Homo sapiens: one gene and its partner. The protein of the gene in region 2 purifies or fractionates together with the protein of the main gene of each other region. This does not show direct contact. Each region holds a gene or a part of one and is shown on either strand. Other genes may lie near its edges.

Region 1 (8,908 bases), on a different chromosome or scaffold from region 2:
TCGGGGCCAGGGTCAGCACATTCCAGAGGGAAAAGCAGGGCTTTGTGCAAGAGTAGGTGCGCAACAAATGAATAAACAGAAAGGACTTCTCTTTCCTTACAATCTTTATGGCACTTTCTCTCTGTGCCATTTGTTTGGAAATTCATCCCATTCATAAAAGACAGCTTTGTCCTTGGGACTTCCTGCTTCCTGGATCTTGCAAGCCTGAACCGTCTTCCAGGAAGCTTACTAGGGTGCCCTCCACAAACATGCGAGAACACAAAGGACCTCTGAGCAAGAGCCCGGCCACACCGGCTTTGGCCCAAGTTATGTAACATACCAGGTATCACTCCAGTCCAGAGCGGCTCACAAAGTCCTCTGTGTATGTGTTATTGCATTATTCAACCCTACGGATGGTAATTTAAGATCAAAATGAACAAGGGACAGGCAGTTCTGTTTGTCCTTCCCATGTCGTGTGGAACAGCCTTGACATCCTAAAGCCAGGGCTCACGACAACCAATCCGGAGGATGGCTCCCACTCAGTGAGGCACACCCAGTGCTGGGCACATGCGTGCACATTTCCACCTGTTGCACCCTCACAGAAATGCCGCGAGGCAAGACTTTTTATGGCTGCACTGCATGGGTCCACGGAACCCAGGGACAGAGGGGCTCGGTGAGCTCGAAGCTCAGCCGCTGCTCACCTCGCTGTCCACAACCCCGTTCCTGTCCCGGTGGGGAGACTCGTAGGCGTCCATCTGCTGCTTGGAGACCTTGGCCAGCTTCTCAGCCAGCTCCCGCCAGCGCTGGGCCACCTCTACAGCCGTGGTCAGGAGCACAAAGTCCTGGATGAGTCTGACCACCAGGCCCTGGCAGTCCATCTTCAGTAGGGCCTGCAGAGGAAGAGGCACACAGCGTGAGACAGTGTAGGGAGTGGGGCAGGCTCTGCTCCCCGCAGAATTCCAGCAGACGGCGCAGGAATGGCCATGGGCTCTCTATTCTCCATGTTCCCTGGCCTACTACCAAATGTCCCCTGAAATCGATCACTGCCAGGATTCACGGGAGAAAAGAGATGATGTGCAGAGCGTGCCAGGTTCACCAGTGTCTCCCTCCAAAGCCCACATCCACCCAGAACCTCAGAACGTGACCTTACTTGAAAATGGGGTCTTTGCAGATAGAATTAAGATGAGGTCCCTCTGGATTAGAGGAAGTCACCAAGGACTGGCGTCTTCATAAGAAGAGAAAGCAGACAGAGAGGCAGAGAGAAGAAGGCCGTGTGAAGACGGAGGCAGAGACGGGACAGATGCGGCAACAAGCCAAGGAAAAGAAGGAGGGTTGAGCCAGTGGGGCTTAGGAGAGGCAGGCCTGCAACCCCTTCTCCCCCACTGCTTCCAGACGGAGGCCACCCTGGGACCCCTGACTGAGACCTGTGGCCTCCTGAATGGTGACAGGACAGGTGTCTGTTGTTTGATGTCCCTTGGTTTGTGGTCATTTGTCTTGGCAGCCCCAGGAAGCTAACAGACAGGGTGAATATGGATTAGAGTTGTCACCACTCCCACTCTCTGGGGACACCAGAGAGAAACGAATGCATTTCACCAAATAGACACCATAGCCTGAGGCCGAGACGGATGGAGGGCGAGCTGGACCTGCTGAGTGTGCGGTGCTGACATTGGCCAGTTAGAGAGCACCGCGGGTAGAAGGCTGGGGGACTCAGGCAGGGACCACCCAGGGAGAAGAAGACAGAGAACAGAAGAGGCCCTGGTCAGAGACAGGGTGTACCACCAAGAACCACGGTGACCAGGAGATGCACAGACCTCCCCCAGGACTGTGCAACATGAGAAAACGGTTTCCACAATTGGTGGGACTGCTCCCACGTCAAAGCTGCAAGAACTTTCTACTGTGTCTTTAGGACAGGGATTACTAACCACAGAGGAAGTCAGAGGGGAGGTAATAGGACAGACAGCCCTGCTGGGACAGTGAAGTCCCAGCTGAGGCTGGAACAACCACGTGGCCGCCTTGGGACTCAATTCCCTCCTAAAAACGGGGGCTGGATGGGACAGGCATTGAACATATGGCTAATATATCTGGGGGACCCCAGGCTGGGGTCAAACTCACACTTCTGGTTTAAAGAAACAAATCAAATTGGCTAGCACAAGACAGCAGGCCTGCTAGTCCTGTACACTGTGCCAAGTCACATGACTGCCACTGGGTGTCATGCAAGCGACTCTGGCGCCATCCTAATTATAAATGAGGCCACACATGGTTAGCGTGTGGCTCTGAGCCAGTCAGGATGACGTCACCAGGAAGGCAGGAGAGCCGCATGCTGGGTCTGATTCTTGTCTGAGTCTCCTCTGCCATAGAAGGCACAGCTCACCCCCACCCTTAAAGCTTTCTCTCATCCAACAATGGGAAAGGCTTGGCTTCCAGGGCACAGTGGCCTGAGGCAGCCCAGAGACGGTTTCTGAGGCTCCCGTGAGCCCCTGGACAGGCGAGTTGCTAAGAGAAGAGGAAAGTCACCAGTCCTGGCGTTCTTTCTCTCTACGCTCTGTTTCAGCACCTGAGGTTGTCATTTTAGGACTCCAAAGTGTGCTAAAAAACAAACAACCCCCCACCCCCGCCAACCACACCGCTGGTACCGGCGCTCTTTGGCCAACTATTTTGTGCCGATAGCAGGGTCGTCTTGCTAGTGCTCATGCGGTCGGCTGGGCTGCTTACTTCAAAGCGAGCCCAGCTGTTTTAGACTGAGCATTCTAATGTACACTTTATGTTTACCTGGGGGGAGTCTAACAATACAAAAAGGTGACCTTTTTGGCGACTTGTGGCATGCATTAGCCAGAGTAGGTGACTCACGATCCTTCTAGGTGGGCCCCCAGCATCTCAATCCATGGAATTTAAAAAGAACCAGGAGCGACAGATCATTCTGATGCCTCCCTAGATATGAGAGGCTGACAGCTGGCTACCAACGAGGCTGGCCAGAAGGGGGTTTGAGGACCTGGTGGCCGTTTGTTTTTGTAGAAGCTACTAGAAACCCAGGGCTAGGCCAGGAGCGGTGGCTCACGCCTGTAATCCCAGCACTTTGGGAGGCTGAGGCAGGTGGATCACGAGGTCAGGAGATCGAGACCATCCTGGCTAACACAGTGAAACCCTGTCTCTACTAAAAGTACAAAAAAAATTAGCCGGGTGTGGTGGCGGGCACCTGTAGTCCCAGCTACTCAGGAGGCTGAGGCAGGAGAATGGCGTGAACCCGGGAGGCGGAGCTTGTAGTGAGCTGAGATCGCGCCACTGCACTCCAGCCTAGGGGACAGAGCGAGACTCCGTCTCAAAAAAAAGAAAAGAAAAAAAAAGAAACCCAGGGCTTGCTGTGAGCCAGACACTCAGCTCCTCCGCTCCCCAGAGCCCCCCATGAAGCAGAGGCTGAGTTCAACCCACTTTACAGAAGAAGCTGAGAGAGGGGAAGTGGGTTTCACACCGAGAAATGCCAGAGCCAGAGCTGCCTCTGGGCACCCAACCCCAGGTCCTCCCTGCTGTGTGGGCCGCAAGGCATCTGTTCTACAGATAAGCACAGGAAGCCTGCAGACCCCAGGCTTGTCCCGGGTCCCACAGCTGGAAGTGACAGGCGTGGAGGCAAATATGCAAACTTCTCAGCACTCGGCCAGCGGCCTTCCCAATTCCATGAGCCCCACATGGAATTGGGAATTGAACCAAATGTAATACCGGTCTGGATTATGCTTCATATCAACTATTTATATATTTCAGAAGAAGGTCTGTTTCTATTTGAATTTGGATATATTCAAAACAAATTGTTTTAAAAAATTAAATGTTGACTAGATTTGTTTCAGAAGATAAAAGCATACACGTGTGTATTCACGTGTCAGGAGGGTGTGTAGTTAGCTGGTAGGCTGTCAGATCCTAATTTTCTTGCTGTGGTGGCAGCCTCGTCTGTGGTCCTGGGAAGGTGTGCTGGACCACCACAGGGTTTGACACGAAGTCACTCAATGTCCCCAACTCAGCTCTTTCGTGGCTACTCAGCACACACCAAGCTAATCTGGCTGTGTGCACAGCTGCCTGGCTCCAAAGTGGCCTCATTTTCTAGGTAACAGAACAGGTCAAAGTCACCTGCTTCTGACTCGAGTCATTCCTGGTGCGAGTGATCAAAACCGCTCTCTCCCCAGGGGAACTGGGCACAGGTCCCCAAGGTCCTGGGAAACACAGGTGTTCTCTGGCCCCTGGGAAGGAGAGCGCCTGGACTCCATCCAGGGGCAGCCAAGGTCCCATTTCCATGGATCCCAGATGAAAGGAGAGGTCGGCACTTCCAACACCAAGAATGAAGGCATCTCTCCCTCACTCACTTACACAACTTTTACTGAGCCCAGCCCTGGTTTAGTTTGTTACAAACCACCCACACCATCAACAAGGCATAACTGATGCATATTTTTAAAGGACAAATTTTGGGTGCCAACCAATTCTTAGCAATAGAAAAATTTCACAGCAGGAGGCTCTAGCTCTATGAACTTGATCCTTGCAGCTTCCTCTTTTTATGGGCACACAGGTACACCAGGAAACACTCGATGGACTGCTGCACTACCCTGGTTTCAACTGGAATTTTGTTACAGTGAGTACACCATGATTTCAGTCAGGGTGACTGAACTTTATAAAGGGACAGATAGTACTTTTGCCTTTGTGGGACACACGAAGCCTGAAAGCCACAGACGATGCAGATGGGAATGGGTGTGGCTGAGTTCCAACAAAACGCCATTGACAGGAATAGCGGGCCTGGCGGCCAGAGTCTGGGAACTTGCTTCAAGAGATATTCTTGTCCAGCCATGGTGGCTCACCCCTATAATACCAGCATTTTGGTAGGCTGAGGTGGGAGGATAGCTTGAGCTCAATGAGTTCCACACCGGCCTGGGCAACACAATCAAACCTTGTCTCTACTACAGACAAAAAAAAAAAAAAATTAGCTGGGTGTGGTGGCACCTGCTTGTAGTCCCAGCTACTTGGGAGGCTGAGGTGGGAGGACTGCTTGAGCCCAGGAGTTCGAGGCTGCAGTGAGCTGTGATCACACCACTGCACTCCCGCCTAGGAGACAGAGCGAGACCTTTTCTCAAAAAAGGGGCGGGGGAAAATACTCTTATAAAGTACAAAGAAATACAATTTAGGCTTTTTTGCTGCATGTTTATTCCATCCTGCTTCCTTCCCAACATGCCCCAAAACTCGAGGGGAAGCCTTCTGCACATGGCATCTGGACAATGGGCCCATCCTCCTTCCCTCTCCCACATTAACAGCCACAGGCTCTGGCTTTGGGGCTGCCTGGGAGGAATCCCTCAGGACCCCATCCAATGCACACTGTCCATCAACTCCTCCTCTTCTGGAGGTTAAAGTGGGTCTTCTCCCAATCCACAGAGAGTCCCTTCACACCACACCAGTCTTTCCCGCCCCAATGCGCCCCATGCACTTGCTAGCTTCCTTATTTCTGTTAGTTTTCAAGTCTCTTTGGGTTTATTCCGGCCCCCACTCCACTCCCAAAACAACCACCCTCCCTTGCTTTGCATCCCACAGCAACTCCTTCCCTTTCTCATAGAAACTTCTCTACAGAGCCCGACACGCCTATTTCCCTACCTCCCGCAACTTGACCAAAACGCCCCTGCTACAGCCATCACCGACGGCTCCAGGTCACCACACCCCACGGCTTCGTTCTTATGGTGGATCCAGGACCAGTTGTGACAGCTCACTCTGGCCCCTTAGGAAGTTCTCCCTGGGCCTGAGGCCACCGTGGGCTGCTTCTGCTCCCATGGCTGATGGCCACTGCCCACGGCTATCTCCAGCTGACTCCCCTTCCTTCCCCACCATAACAGAGACCATGTGCCGAGTGCTGACAGTATCCCGAGAATTGGGAATAGTCTCTTGCATCAAAAGGGCGCTGCTGAATGACTTTTCTGATTCTTAAAAAGCTGGGTTCCCTTTCAAAGGCCTCTACCACTGCCAGACGCTGCCCCTCCTCTTTGCCTGACGGGAGCCCACCGACCACGCAGTGTTTCTGGCCAGTCTACAGAGGATGCACAGCGAGGGTTTCATGTCCCCTGCTTCGCCTCTGACGCATCAGGGGGCTGAAAGAAAACCCTACCCTTGAATCATGCCACTGCCACCATTTTTTGTACATGGGACCCCTGAAGGAGCACAAGGCTTAAATGTGAATGTGCACATTTCTCCTTTCATAAATACTCATGACTCCCCCTACGGCTTATTGAATATGTATATTTGGCCACCAATATCCATAAATTCTTGTTGCCTTTGCCCCTCCCTTGAAGTGTCTGTTTTTGGCTTCTGGCAGGAGGCTCTGCTTCCCAACCTGTCAGAATAGCCACCCACAGGCTGCAACCCTTTATGAGGAATGAGGCTCTCCTTTCCAAATGAACAAACCTTGTCATTCTTCAGCTGACACCATCACGGACAGAGGCTCTGGTGGGAGAGAAGTGGCCAGGACAGAGGGGTGCTCTGAGTGCAGCCACAGCCATGCTGCTGGGAAGGGGCAGGCAGAGGTACGGGGATGCCTCACACACGGACTCTATCAAAAACAGGCACAAAAAGAATGGAAAGAGGAAATGGAACCACAGAACAGAAGCATGGTATGGCCACGTGAGAATGCCTCCCGCTTGGATTCTTAGCCCAGCCCAAGGCCTGCATTCATTCATTCATTCATTCATCATTCATTCATTCATCCATCATTCATTCATTCAATCACTTATCCATCTAGTACCTCAGTGATTCTTATGTGCCGGGGCCCTTCCTCTCATGGGACCTATGTTCAGTTAGAGTAATAATGAGAAACAAGTGCACAAGAACATAAACAAACTTGTTTCTTTTCTTCTCTTCCTTTATTTTCAAGACAGGGTTTCACTCTGTTGTCCAGGCTGGAGTGCAGTGCTGCGATCATAGCTCAGTGTAGCCTCGACCTCCTGGGCTCAAGTGATCCTCCCACCTCAGCCTCCCAAGTAGCTGGGACTACAGGTGCACACCAACACACCTGGCTGATTTAAAAAAAAAAAATTGGAGAGATGAAGCCTCACTATGTTGCTCAGGCTGGTCTTGAATTCCCGGGCTCAAGCGATTCTCCTGTCTCAGCCTCCCAAAGTGCTGGTATTACAGGTGTGAACCTCCATGCCTGGCCAAAACAAACCGCTTCTGATTCAAGAAACACCATGGAGACAGAGGATGATGGAGTGCGCGGGGCTGCAGAGAAGGACGTCCTGGAGAGACGGCATTTGAGCTGGCAGCTGAGGGAGATGAGGAGGTCTGGGAAAGGGAGCTCCAGGAAGAGGAACAGCATAGCATCTGCAGGAGCTGGAGGCCGGGCGAGCTGGGTGTGTTCAGGGCAGGGGTGCACAGAGCACAGTGGCCCCCAGGGTTGGGATGGGTAGGGCCAGATCTTACACGACTTTGTGGGGCAGGGGCAAAGGCTGACCCCGTTCTAAAGGCAGTGGAGAGAGGAACAACCCAGGTCTCATTTGACTCCTTTTTCCTTCCCATCTCCCTGCACACTGACTGTCTCAAACTCTCACATTTTCCCCATCATTTAAACACTGTTTCCAACCCAAGGCATCAGAACAAGGACACCGAAAGCTATGCTAAAAATGAGAGGCAGGGGGTGGCCTGGCTGTGACTCTCTGGGAGGGGCAGGTAAAGCGGTGGCAGAGGCCGCAGAAATCGTGGCAGCCCTGTGATGACAAGCGGAATAGAACAGCCAGTTTTCAGGGTCTCCTAATAAACGACCTGGGAGAAATCCGTCTGTGGTTTCTATAAGTTTGGCCAAGATGATGACTGACACAGGTGTGGGGGGCGGGTGGGGACACTGCAAAACCAGTTTCACTTTATCACCACAAAATCTAACCTTGCCTCAGGGAGCCGACCTGGCCAAGGGCAAGTTTCACTTCCTCCTTTCTGGGTAGCGGAAGGACTCGGGCACAGAGGACACACCCCTCCCTGGAGCGGACAGGGAGGCCCACCAAAAAATCCCCTCCCAGAGATGCTCACCAATCGAATTGAGAGAGTTTGATCATTTATGTCTTTTGGAAAAAGATAAAAAAGCAGGAAAATGAGTGTAAAAGCCACCTACTCGGCGGTTATTTTCCACAGCTGGTGTGGTACTCCTGGTTGTGTCATTTTTCCACCTCTGGTGCAACGTCGAGGTGAGTGTCCTGGGCTCAGCAATGCTGTCAGGTTCCACGACAGCATGCACAGCCACGGCTGTGGTCTCGGGGCCGCCCGCACAGAGGCTCTCACGGGATGGAGGCGCTTTGTCTGCCACTGTGCTGGGTGCACCCGTGAGGAGACCAGGCCACGGCCCGGCACCAGGTTCTGGAGAGCCAGGAGGTGTGCTCTGAATCACACATGGGTGATGGCTGATGGGAGGGACGCAGGCCATCCCCTCCCTGCAGGTGACCCCACATGGGGGCCCGGAGGCTTCCCTGCTGCGTTTGTTCGCTTCCTCCCCACCCAAGTGCAGTGATTTCCTGGTTGCCAAGGTGGCCCCCCTGACGGCCGCTTCCAGTTCCATCTCCCTCCCCTGGGCAATCTCGTGGCTCCATGCTTCTGGCACTGCACACGACTGCAGGCCACCCAGAGAGGGTCTCACCCGACTCCTGCCCCACTCCTGCCGGGCTGCGTCCCTTCTGTCTCCTGGCTCAACATGGGCAGCCGAGCCGGGTATGTGCCACATGTGACCCTTGCCTGCACACCTGTGTCTACAGGACACTCTGGGCTCTCCCAGACAAACAGGGCTCAATCCAGGGGAGCCGGGGAGGTGGCAGAAAGGCCGGGCACCAAGAAGCACGCCTCTCAGAAGCTAGGATGCAAGAAAGCCTGCGGGCTCAGAGGAACGAGGAAGAGCGGCACACGCCAAGGTCACAGGGTTTTCCCACAGGAATGAACACCA
Region 2 (6,973 bases):
ATGGAAAACTTGCATTAATGTTGGTTATATGCATAAACATGGTAAAACTGGGGTTTTACCCATATACCCGGGTTATAAAATGTTATAAACTTTGATCTAACACATGAAAACAACTCGTGTATATTATCTTGGAAACTGACCTTGCAAGTCAGTGCACTGAAAATGTTGAACGTGGCTACCAAGCTATTGCTGAGACTCTGGAAAACTTGGGTAACAATATAGCTTCATGGGAGGAAAAAAAAAAGATGGGCACAATGGCTCCGTGTCTGTGTTATTCAAGAGACTGAGGTAGGAGGATCACTTGAGAGTAGGAGTTTCAAACCACACTGAGCAACACAGAAAAACCACATCTCTAAAAAAAAGTTTTTTTAATTAGCCAGATGTGGTGGCACATGCCTGTAGTCCCAGCTACTTGGGAGGGTGAAGCAGGAGGATTGCTTGAGCCTAGGAGTTTGAAGCTATAGTGAGCTATAATCGCACCACTGCAGTCCAGCCTGGGCAACAGAGTGAGACCCCATCTCATTAAAAAAAAAAGAAAAGAAAAACAGAAAACAAAAAAAAAGAATACACTGAATTCAAATCCAGGCTCTGCCACTTGCTATGTGTAATTCTGGAAAAATTCTGAACCTCAAAGTCTGTTTCCTCTCTGTGAAGTGGGGATATTAATAATAATACTTACTTCTTAGGGATTAAGTAGATTGAATAAAATCATGTACCTTGAGCTCAGAATAATGTCATATATAATGATGAGAAGTGTTAATGCAAAATACACATGCTCCTCTACTTACCAAGGTGTTATGTCCCAATAAATCCATTGTGAGTCAAAAATATCATAAGTCAAAAATGCATTTAATACCCCAATAAACCCATAAAGTGGAAAAATCTTAAGTCCAGGAAGTTACATCCTAATAAATCCATGGCGAAGTCAAAAATCTTAAGTCTAACTATCATAAACCCAGGACCATCTGTAACTAAAACTGAAGTCCCTGGTTACAGCAAAGACATTTAAAGTTGTCAGTTAAGTATGCTAACAAGCTCACTAGCTTAGGAATCAGAAGATCCAAGTTTAAATTACAGTCAAGTTTTTTTTTGCTAGGTATGTGACCTTGGCTAAGGGCCAATCACTTTGTACTTCAGTCCTTCATTTAACTGTTAGGTATTAATCATATTAGTTACCATGTATTAAGCCCTAACCATAAACTATGCAATCTGATACGTTTACATACGGACTCCACTCTTCACAATACTCTTCAAGACAAATATTCTAATCTCTATTTTACAGATGGCGAAAACTGAGAGAAGTTAAACTCATTCAAGTCCACACAGCTAGTAAAGGGTAGAACCTGGCTCCATGTCCAAGTTATCGTATTTAACCTGCCACCTGCCTCCCCTAGAGATCAAAGGAAAGTGTCCTGTGAAAGTGTTTTTTGAAAAAAAAAAAATCCTATATAAATGTGAAGTATTATTAGTATCCTATATCAATACAAATAATTCACAGATGGGTTTGCGATTTGCCCCTTAGTGCCTGGGAACTTCGAAAGAACAAAGGGTTACACTTTAAGCTCTCTTTCGTCTCCTCTTGGAATTTTGCCTTGACCTCAATTTCCCTTGAACAGACCTGATAAACAACTAATTAAAGAACTCCAGGTGCCGCTGTAGGCCTCAAAGACAGCTCTCTGCACTCCTCTGAGTCCAGGGCAACAAAATTATATGCTTTTCCTAGAAATGTGGACAAAATATTTTGTTGAGCTAACTTTTCACACCTACCTTTGCAGTTCACTTGGGTTAGCACAAATAAAGTGGTCACATAAACGTTCACATAAACTAGTGCTTTAGGTCATGCCTGTGTCAAACTTAGTTCCAGGCCCCCATGAAATCTAATTAAAGCAAATTTCAGTCCCTTTTTAAGGATACGATGTAAAAGAGCTGATCTTCCTCATGAAAATTTTGTTAACTAGTCCCACGTGATTAAGTATGAATCTCTAGGTTATCCACTCTTGGAATAACAGCCCAGCTTTTTAAACTTCTTGGAAATACCACCAAAGGGTTTCTGGTGCTGATGTTAGAAATGACAGATTGGGGGAAAGTGGGCCTCCGTTTGGTATTACCTGGAAGGCTCTTCAATGTTTTCCCCCCCACTTAATCTGGGTATCACCTGCAAGGCACTTCTATTTTTTTTTTCCCCCGTTAATCTAGGGAGATGACCTGCGTGACTCTCACGCCTGCGGAGGAAACAGGAGAGTAAAGTCCAGATGAAGTGGAGGGTATTAATCTGCCCCGCCAGATCTCGAGTCTGGGAAGGTGCTCACGCCTTGAACGGCCGGCGGAATCCGGGACATCTGGAGCAAACACATTTGCAAGCGGAAGAAAGGTTGCCTCCCTCAACCCGCTTCCCAAAGGCCAGATCTCGGAGCAAGGGGGACTGTGACTTTCTGCGGTCCTGCCAAGTTAAATTTTCCCTTCCAGGGAAGGCACACTCACTTTCCCCCGGGACGCCCCCGGCGGACTCAACACGGCATCGGATTTCGCGCTCCGGGAAACGCCGCTCAACCCTCCTGGGCCCACAGAAATACGCGCGGCGCGGCGCGGCGCGGCGGAGAGGCGGGAGAGCCTGAGCACCTGGCGCCTTACCTCCGACGGCGAGATTTCAAACGCGCCCGCGATCTGGGCGTAGAGCTCCTGGATGCTGGAGAAGCCCTCCACTCGGCCCGTGGCACTACCGTGCGCCAGCTGCGCGTGGAAGACCAGCCTGCGTGCGGGAGCCCGGGACGCTGAGAGGCTCCCGCCGCCCGCGCCCGTCGGCTCGCCCTCCACCAGCCCGGCGGTCTCCTTGGACTTGGCCTTCTTCTTCCCCCGCAGCTTCAGGGGCATCTTGCAGGGCCGAGAGCGCGGGCCCACCTGCGCTGCCGTCCGCCGCCTCCTCCCCCCGGCGCCTCGGACTTTGCGCCCCGGGCCCCGCGCAGGTAAAAGCAGCCTCCAATGGCAGCCGCGCTTCCGCCTGGCTGCGTCGGGTCAGGGCCCCGACCTCCACCCCTGGACCGGAGCAGCCGCCCGCCCGCCCAGCCTCCCCCGGGATGGATCTGGAGAGAAAGAAAGTTACGTAGTCCCTCATCCTATCACCAGGTTTATCCCTACTCCTTGTAAAAAATGGCTCTATTTACGTGAACGCCTGAGGATGCCGACGCTACAGAACAATACGCCTTAGAAGGCAAACACGCTGGCCCTTCTCTGCTTTTCATAAATCTGTAGTAGGCACCCACGCATGATTTGGCCACAGGCCTTCGGGTCCGTACGTCTGGACTTTCGGGGATAGGGATTTAAGTAGAAGTCAACCTTCGTCTGCATTTTCTGCGTCTTACGCTCTGCAGGGCAGAATTGGAAGAGAAAGTCACATAACCTTGAGCTTGGTGCTACGTTGTATTCATAAACCCCCTCAGCCGGGTCCTTGGCACCTCTGAGTTTCCCTTTTGCCTATTTCCTGGGCTGCTTCCTCTCCCAACATTCAGCACGCCTCCAAAGCCATTTGCCCCAGCTCTGCCCTTCTTAGTCTCTACAGAGGACCTTGCCTCATATAGTACAAAGAAAATTGAGGCCATTCGGTGTGAAGTGTGAGTTCCCTCAATTCCCTACCTCGCGTTTATTGCATTGTTTTCAAGTCCAGTCCCCTCCAACTACGCTTTTTACAACAAAGCAAAACAGTCTTGAATTATTAGCTACGAAATTTCCTCACTTCTCTGCTCTTAGAAGCACTGTGATCAGACTTTGCCCCCACACTACTGAAATTTCACTTACTATGCAATTTCAGTGGAGTGAAATCACTATCATATCTTAATTACCAAATACAAGTAATTCTTTTAGGTTTTTATCTTACTTGGTCTGCGTTGCCCATTTCATTCTTCTTAAATTTTGTCCTCTTTTGGCTTCCTTACCTCTCCTCTCCCCGTCCCCACCCTGCTCCTTGCTAACTGCTAGTCTCCAGGAGTTGCATTCACCGACAGTTTTTCCTCGACAAACTTCCCTTCTTACTTAGCTTTGCATGTTCTTCCTGTATGGTCACATCAACATTCTCGGTTTCACAGACGTTGTTGTCTACCAAATGTCTCCAACTCCAGCTTATTCTACCAGAAAGGGAATGTACTGTAGGAAACCCAAATTGAGACTGAACAAAACTGACCTCATCATTTCTCCTGCATCTATCTTTTCTTTTTTTTACTCCTGATTTCAGTTAATAGGATCACCAAGCACTCCCAGACCAGACATTGTGGAGTCGTCGTATCAGGATTTTTCCTCTTCCCTCACCTCTCACATCAATTCAGTCCCGAAAATCCATATTTCTCAACTTAAGGTTAGCAGATGTACTGGGGGAGGAGAGTCTTAAGAATTCTTTAGGAGGCCGGCGCGGTGGCTCACGCCTGTAATCCCAGCACTTTGGGAGGTGGAGGCGGGCGGATCACCTGAGGTCAGGAGTTCGAGATTAGCCTGGCCAACATGGTGAAACCCCGTCTCTACTGAAAATACAAAAATTACCCGGGCGTGGTGGCGCATGCCGGTAGTTCCAGCTACTCGGGAGGCTGAGGCAGGAGAATCGCTTGAACCCGGGAGGCGGAGGTTGCAGTGAGCCAAGATTGTGCCACTGCACTCCAGCCTGGGCAACAGAGCGAGATGAAAAAAAAAAAAAAACTTTAGGATAACTTTAACATTTTTGTTTTATGTTTCTGTGACTTAGAAAAGTAATACAGGGACACCTGCACTCAGCCAGTGCTGCTGCTGTTGCTTCCCAGGAGAGCCAGGGCAACTTTCCACTTGGCCCTCATCCAGCTTCAAGTTTCTTCATCAAATCAGATAACAACACTCGAGCTTGTAGCCTTGTCCGGGAGACAGCAACGCAAGGAGCCAAAATGGTTTCTTTGTTGGAATGCTTTAATTCTCCATATGGCACAAAATATTTTCCTGAATATGCAGCGAAAATTCCTGGTAAATCCACACAGAAGCTTTCTGAAGTAGCAAAGGAATACAACCTCACTAGAGGTTCCATCCCTGAAGAGGATGCTGGGAAATTAGATAACACCTATGCTGTGTTTGCACCTCATGGAACTTTACTAGTAAAGCACAGAAAGGTCCATCTGCTTAACACTGGTGTTCCTGGAAAAATGACGTTTCAAGAATCCACAATGTTGAGTCCAGGCAACAGTTTCTCCACATTTGATACTCCTTACTGCAGAATGAGTCGGGGCATCTGCTATGACACTGGTTTGCAGAGCTTGCACAAATCTACACACGGAAAGGCTGCCAGCTGTTGGTTTATCCAGGGGCTTTCAGTTTGACCACTGGACCAGCCCACTGGGAATTGCTTCAGGCTCTTGATAATCAGGTGTATGTGGCCACATTCTCCTGCCCAAGATGACAAAGCCTCCTATGTTGCCTGGGGACACAGCACTGTAGTGAACCTTTGCTGCTAGGGCTCTCAAGGAAGAAACAATCATGTATTCAGACATAGACCTGAAGAAGCTGGCTGAAATCCATCAGCAGATCCCCATTTTTAAACAGAAGCAATCAGACCTCTGTGCAGTGGAGATGAAAAAGCTCTAAAGTTTATGTTTCCAACGTGTCGCAAAACAAGAAGATACGATTCTGCAACATAATCAACTCCCTATTCTTTAATGAAGATCCTTTTTTTAAATTTCACCCTTTTCCTTCCCAAGGAGCTCTCTATTAAGATGATAAATCCTCAGCAAGCTGATATTTTCCACACCACAATAAGTAGTTAAAAAGGAGCCTGGAGCCGAAGAGCTGGCTCTGAAGTTCCTTCCGTATTTAAGTTGCCTCAGAGCAGTTTGTGAAAGTAACCGATCTTGGTATCCTGGTGATTGATTCACCTAATACAAATATATTTGTGTCATGAACCTCTTATCCCACTTGCTGGAGTTGGAATCCATTATCTGGAAAACTTGATCTGATGCCATTCTTTTCCTAGCAGTACCTTAAAGTTCCATTTTTTGTCCACAAGTAGCTATAGGACGTAAGGTGATAGATCTTTGGTGTTTGCTAGGGGAGGTTGCAGCCCCTTCCTTCCTAGCAGCCTTTGGGCTCTTCAAATTTAAGAAGAAGCTCATCATTCAACCCCAGACCCTCTTGGTCTTTGGGGGAAAGACTGGGTCAACAATGACCCCCATGGGAGAATGGCAGTGGTGGCATTTGGTGAAGGCAACAGTATGAATCTGCAAAAGATTTGATAGGGTCGAGTGTCTGGAAGTCCAAAGTCCCTTTTTTTTTTTTTTTTTTTAATTTTTCCCCTAGTAAGACTTTCTCGCTCCATAGATAAGCAATCACTGTACCAAGTGATTCTTAGACTTTTTGGTCTCAGAATTCTTTTACACAGTTAAAAATTAAGGACTGAAGCCTGGCGTGGTGGCTTACACCTGTAATCCCAGCACTTTGAGAGGCAGAGGCAGGCCAGGACCTGGCCAACATAGCGAAACCCTGTCTCTACTAAAAATACAAAAATTAGCCTTGCGTGGTGGCACACGCTTGTAGTCCCAGCTACTCTGGAGGATGAGGCATGAGAATCGCTTGAACACGGGAGGTGGAGGTTGCAGTGAGCCGAGATCTCACCACTGCATTCCAGCCTAGGCAACGGAGCGAGACTGTCTCAAAAAAATAAAAAATAAAATAAAATTTTCAAATATAGACTAAGGACTGAGGCCCAGCACGGTGGCTCACGCCTGTAATCCCAGCACTTTGGGAGACCAAGGCGGGAGGATAGCCTGAGTCCAGGAGTTCGAGAGCAGCCTGGGCAAAGTGGTGAAACCCTGTCTCTACAAAAGAATACCAAAAAAAAAAAAAAAAAAAATCAGCTAGGTGTGGTGGTGCATGCCTGTAATCCCAGCTATTCAGGAGGCTGAGGTGGGAGGATCGCCTGAGCTTGGGAGGCAGAGGTTGCAGTGAGCTGAGATCATGCCACTGCACTCCAGCC

The links.
Region 1: the proteins of GIPC2 (region 2) and SH3BP4 purify together in Homo sapiens (affinity purification with mass spectrometry; 3 studies listed by BioGRID and IntAct, with this or other methods). This does not show direct contact.

The regions. Positions count from the first base shown.
Region 1 is NC_000002.12:235,044,523-235,053,430, reverse strand, and holds part of SH3BP4 (SH3 domain-binding protein 4), read right to left. Parts: intron 870-8,908; coding exon 681-869; intron 1-680. UniProt on the Homo sapiens protein: May function in transferrin receptor internalization at the plasma membrane through a cargo-specific control of clathrin-mediated endocytosis.
Region 2 is NC_000001.11:78,041,993-78,048,965, reverse strand, and holds the start of GIPC2 (PDZ domain-containing protein GIPC2), read right to left. Parts: upstream 3,001-6,973; 5' UTR 2,872-3,000; coding exon 2,632-2,871; coding exon of another isoform or gene 2,482-2,631; intron 1-2,481.